2 separate regions of the Homo sapiens genome follow, and region 1 is linked to region 2. The links come from fine-mapping of genetic effects on gene expression. A gene starts in region 2. The other region holds a variant in brackets. All regions are shown on one strand. Distances are from middle to middle. Region 1 overlaps RASA3 (RAS p21 protein activator 3). Region 2 holds the start of CDC16 (cell division cycle 16).

Region 1 (2,908 bases), 260 kb before region 2:
CTTGCCCTTCTACTTCCTCTTGGAGGGGCTGACCTTGGCCCTCCTGGGCTGACCCCAGCACAGCTGTGCCCAGAGTGTGAACGGAGCCCCCTGGCTCCCGACACTGCCTGAGGCCCTGCCGGGAAGTGTGGCTCCAGGAGGACGGGCTGGCCTCCCGGGGAGGATGCCCCCACCTGCAAGGGTTTGTCCACCACCCATAGCCACTCCTGGACTGGGGCAGACCCCACACCTCAGCATGGACTAAGGAGGCCGGCCAGGCTGAACCAAGCCTCACCCTTCCCTGGGAGAAAGGCCTGGGTTGGTGTCCCCAAAGCCACACCTCCTCATTTTTCTCATACCAGAGCTGACTCACAATAGAATTACCAAAAAAGAGGAATTCAAATGGAGCAAGGAAAGGAATAAAGAAATGAGGCAACGTATCATGGAGTCTTCACCCAGAGCCCCCCTTAACCCTCTCCTGCCTGGAGGGACAGCAGCCACCTGCCTAGAGGCGCAGTCCGTTCTCTTCTCCCAGGGCCTCCAAGTGGCCTCCCCCTCTGCATTCCTGGAGATGGCAGCACGTGGTGGTCTGTCTGCCCAGCACTCCTTGAGTGGACACACCTTTCCTGAGGTTATCACAGGGCCGGACTCTCACCTGAGGCACCACAGGTGAATGCCACTGTCAGAGCAGCGCTGCCCATCACCAAAGATGTCAACTGTCACCAGTGATGTCACCTGTCATCAGGGCGGTGCCACCTGTCAGAGCAGCGCTGCCCGTCATGAGGCGTCAACTGTCACCAGCGATGTCACCTGTCACCTGTCAGAGCAGCGCTGCCTGTCACCAGAGATGTCACTTGGCATCAGCAATGTGACCTGTCATCAGGGCAGTGCCACCTGTCAGAGCAGCATCACCCATCACCAGGGACGTCACTTGGCATCAGCAATGTCATCCTGCTCCCCAGGTGCCACCCTCCTCCCTGTACCCCCCACCCCTAATGCCCACATGTGCAATTCCCAGTGGGTACCACTGGAAAACCAAGGCAGTCCTCAGAAAGAATAAAACATCTGTTTTAATTGGCCAGTAAAATACATTGCAAATCATTAGTATTTTATAAACAGAAACATTAAGTTATAAATCCATGTTAAAAATTGCAGCTCAGTGCAGCCCCAACAGCTGTGTGTCCAAAAGTCTATTTTTACAACATTTTCCTCCAGTATTTTTGTGACAAGAAAGTTCCTATCTGCCATCTAGATCAAGAGCCTGAACTACAGTATTTTCAAACAAGAACCGGGAGAAGTCGGTACAAGGATACGTCGTGCTGTGTATTTAAACGGC[G/A]CTTCCCACACACCTGCCGTCTGCATCCCGGGAGGACGCCCTTTGGGAAAGGCCTCCTCGGCAGTGTGAGGTCTGGAGGGGTCTGCCTGGACCCCATTTTTAGGATGCTCCCCTCCCCAATAAAACAGCAGCCCCCGCCCCTGCCCTGCACAGCATCTGGGGGTTCATAACACAGGTGCAATACTGACCATGGGCCCTGGAGGGACGTCTGCACCCCGAAGCCCCTGTACCTCAAACTCAGAGTTTCTTCCCTTCTTTGATTTTCTGGAGGACCTGCAGCTGGCCTTCCTGAGACAGGCTCCATTCCTGTTCCATTTGCCTTCCCGGCAGCCTTCCCTTTAGTGGGTATAGGTTTTGACGTTCTGAGTTACTTTGTATCAAAGAGCTAATTAAAAATGGTCCTTCAAAAACATAAAGAAAAACAGCTTGAAAAATGTACATTTCTATTTTTAAAATCTTCAAACTTCCACGGGGGGTGGCAAATGTTAATTCTGATTTTAAACCCCATTCAACAGCAAAACGATGTGGGCTTCAACTGTGGGCTCCGCAGACGCCTGGAGAAGCTGGAGCCCACACCTTTCCCTCCAAGGGACTCTGTGGACAGAACCCGTATCCCCCAAGCACCAAGGACATCCTCAGACTGGGACTTCTGTGTAATTCTGCACCTCCCAGCCATAAAACTGACCCCTCAGCCAGGAATCAAACGAACCTCGAAAGTGGAACAGGGAGGCCGCCTCCCATGGCTGCCTGGATGGCAGGCACAGTGGGAGAGTAATGCTCTGAACCTCCCAATGTGATGAAGCCGAAAGCCGAGGCGGGGCCAGCAGGCCTCCCGGGCACAGAGCCACAGAGCCCAGCGTCACACGCACCGTGCACGCAAGACAGACGTGCACGAGACTGACGCACACACGGCCGGAGGTGCATGTCACAGTCGACTAGACGGGCCGTGGCTCCCTGAGGCTGGCTGTGGTGTGGCTAGGGCACAGCCCACACTTCCTGATCCTTCAGCTGATCCCCAGATCCCCACAAACAAGGAGCAAAAAGCACAGAATCAAATGACGACACGTTCCACAGGGCCAGGTGGGCTTTCTGCGGAGGGCGTGGCGGTGGTGGCAGCGGTTCTGGGAGAGGGAAACCCCAGCGCCACTTGTCTATGGGCCGGGACGGCGTGCATCTCACTTTGCCGGCTCTGCGCTCTTCCTTCTCTTCTCCCTCCCAAAGGCTGCGGCTTTGCATGGGCAGCTTGCTGGCGCCACTGGGCGCGTCCCGCAGACTTTAAATGGAATGAGTGGAGGTCTCGGACTGCTGCCGGATGTAGTTCTGGAAGCTCTTGTCTCCGATGGGGTGCTCCCTGAAAAGGGGGATGGGAGAGGGAATGAGGCACAGACCCCGTTGCCTGGTGCTCACCCGTGGCTGCGGGAGCTTTTCCTGTTCCTAAATGTGACACACTCACACTGCAATCCACACAAAAAATAGAGGAGCCAAAGGAACCACAGTGCCCCCGGAAGCACCCACGGTGACTCTGATGTGTGTGCACAGGTGGGTCAGGCGTGCAAGTACATGTGCACGTGTGCTCTCCCTGTGGCACGTGTG
Region 2 (2,885 bases):
GGGACAAATTTTTAAACACAACTTCAAAATATTACCCAGTCATATATGTATACACACACATAGAAAATTACACGGCAGATTACTTACAGTAGCGTGAGAGAATTTTTGAGTGGGTGGGATTCTTTACAGCAAGTTTTTTTTTTTTTGCTTCTTTGAATTTTTTTTACTCTTTTAGGTTTTTATATTTATAAAAGTTATATTTACTTTTTAAAAGTGTCAACCTTAATATTGAGATTCAGAAATATGATTACATATAGTGTGTATTTGAGCACAGAGCCTGAGAATGGCCACCTGGACAAATGGGGTCAGCCTTTCCAAGTGGAGCTCAGGTCTCTCTTACCAGGCGGAGACAGAAGCTCCAGCAGGATCACCACAGTTCTCATATGAGACCAGGGGCACACGCCGCAGCGGTTCCATTGGTTAGGGATCTCTGTATTTGAAGGAAGATTGCGTTATAACTCCATGAGGAGGGGTAGTGATCTGAGGGGGTCTTATCTCCGGTGCCATTTGGTCTTTATTGTTTACAGGGAAAAAGGCAGAAGTTACAGCTGGGTGTGGCATGACCTAGGCCGCGTAGCCACATTCCCCTCAAGGCTCAGGTAATTCAAAGTTCCAACAGCTTCAAGTTTAAATTATTTTAAGTTTGAATGATTTAATTTCACAAAAGGTAATATATGCACATTGACTGAAATTCAAAAGCACAAAAAGATATCCAAGGAAGTACCTCTCCCACTTCTACCATCTCTCATCTTCCAGCACTCCTTCCAGAGGCCTTGCGCTATGCCGGTTTTCTCATTTTTCCTTCCTGGGACAGTTTAGGGATTTTTCTACCTATCATTAAATTCGTATTTTACTCAAATGCAGGCATACGATAAACACGATCCTATACTTGCTTTTTCCCACATACTATATCTTGAAGATCGTTCAATGTCCATGCAAAGCTGACTGTTCTTTTGAACAGCCAGCGAGTATTCCATTACGTGAGCGTATCATGACCTATTTACTCAGTTCCATACTTCATGGGTGTTTAAATTGTCTGCAATCTTTTGCTATTACAAACGAAACCACAGGTCATTTTGCACACATGCAAAAATGCAAATCCATGGTATATTTCCCAAAATAAAAATCATTAGGTTTAACAGCACGAACACCTTTAAATTTGGAAGATATTCCAATTCGTTCATCCTAGAGAGTATACCAATACCACTCACAAAACTTGAGGGTGCCTGCTTCCCGACATTCCTGCTAGCAGTGTCATCAACCTTTGTGATCTTTGTTAACATATGAAAAGTGGTACTCTAATTTTAATTTTTATTATGAATTAAGTTGGACTTTCTTTCGTATGTTAAAGTCTATTTGCATTTCTTTCCCTGTGAACTGTTTTTTGCCTGTCTTTCTCCTGAGCCATTGGTCTCTTCCCACTGACTTATTACATATATGTAAAGGGAATATTGGCTCTACATTATAAGGAAATTCGAATTTTGTGATAGGTTTCAAATTTTTCCCTAGGTTGTCTTTGACTTCATTTGCTGTTTGTGCACACAATTTTTTTTTTTTGTAATGAGAGTGCGTTGCTCTTATTTTTAAAATGTTGACTACATTCTGGGGAAAGAAGGCTCAGCAGCCACCTGCTTTTTTGCCCGGGTGGGTGGTCCGGCCCCGAGCCCTCCTGACTCTCTCGCCAATGCCCAGAGGCGCCGCAGCGATTCCAGGGAGGCCGCGCTCTCGCCCCAAGGCAACCAGAAGCCCACGTGCCAGGAGAGGCATCGGAACCAACAACTCGGGTCCGTTTTCCCGCGCCAGATGGGATTCGTTTGCTGTGGACTTCCGGGGCGGGGCCTGCCTGGAGCGGAAGAGCCTGGGCAGTGCACGGGGCCTGGGTGGGGGGTGCGGGTGTGGGTGGGGACCTGCGGCCTTCGAGTCCGCGGCCTTCGAGTCCTGGGGCGGCGGCGGCGGCTGCAGGCACGGGCACGGGCACGGGGCGGGGTGCTTAGGGTGCAGGAGGCGCGCGCCTAGCGGCGGAGTGTGGCGTGAGGCCGGGCCCGCGCCGCCATGAACCTAGAGCGGCTGCGGAAGCGCGTCCGGCAGTACCTCGACCAGGTGGGCGGCCCCGACTCGGGGTGCGGGGCCCAGGCCTCGCCGGGTCTTTTTCCGCGCGGCGTGGGGCTGGGGTGACTGTTGTCGGGGCTCTTGGTGGGGAAGGACTGGGCCGGCCCTGGGCCTTCATCTGGGGCCAGCAGCGCTGTCTCCGCCTCGCCCAGAAGGGAGCGGTCCCTGCAGCTGGGAGGGGCACAGCCCGGGGAGTGGAGGCCCCCGAGCGCACGGGGCGCCTCAGTCGGGTCTGAGCCTCGTTCTGCACCTGGCGCGGAGGAGGTGCCCAGGAAACACTGACTACTCAGTGCAAGTTGAAGGACAATTTTTGGAGGAAAGTTGCAGGGCTAGCTAATAAAACATTTTTGAGAGGTTTAGTTGTAATTTTTACTGGGCTGAATTTAAGTGAATAAAGATGTGAAGAAGCCTGTTGTCTCAAATCAATACTTTAAAAATTCTCGTTAACTATGTCTGTGTTCTCTGCACTACCTTTGAATAGCAGAGAGCGTTTAAGGCAAGAAGTGTCTTCGAGAATCAGCAGCATCAGTTTTATCTATATTGTTGTTTATTTTTTGTTGAAATGCTTGCTCTTTCAGGAAATTGGAAAGAAAGGGAAAGAAAAGCCATGGTAATGCAGAGTTTTCGGAATTGGGTGCTAACTGACGTGGCCAAATGTTTGCAGTCCATTTGGAGGGCTGTGTTTTTATTTACCATGAGTCAGTTGAATTCAGTGTTTTCTGATCACTTTTTCTTCGGTACGGAGACGTAGTGAGGAATATGACAGGCCCGGTTTC

What was found.
Region 1: its variant is fine-mapped to the expression of CDC16 in substantia nigra (GTEx, PIP above 0.99).

What each region holds. Positions count from the first base shown.
Region 1 is chr13:113,976,757-113,979,664 of GRCh38, forward strand. It overlaps RASA3 (RAS p21 protein activator 3), which reads right to left. Exons shown (of 24, transcript NM_007368.4): 24 at 1,027-2,666. The coding sequence ends at 2,591. Among named protein-coding and RNA genes, the nearest start is that of C13orf46, 4.1 kb to the left of the region's middle. RefSeq lists an enhancer at 2,132-2,632. The variant G/A (reference allele first, on the strand shown) is at 1,316.
Region 2 is chr13:114,233,033-114,235,917 of GRCh38, forward strand. It overlaps CDC16 (cell division cycle 16), which reads left to right and starts at 1,865. Exons shown (of 18, transcript NM_001078645.3): 1 at 1,865-2,100. The coding sequence starts at 2,053. RefSeq lists an enhancer at 1,664-1,713 and a silencer at 1,824-2,183.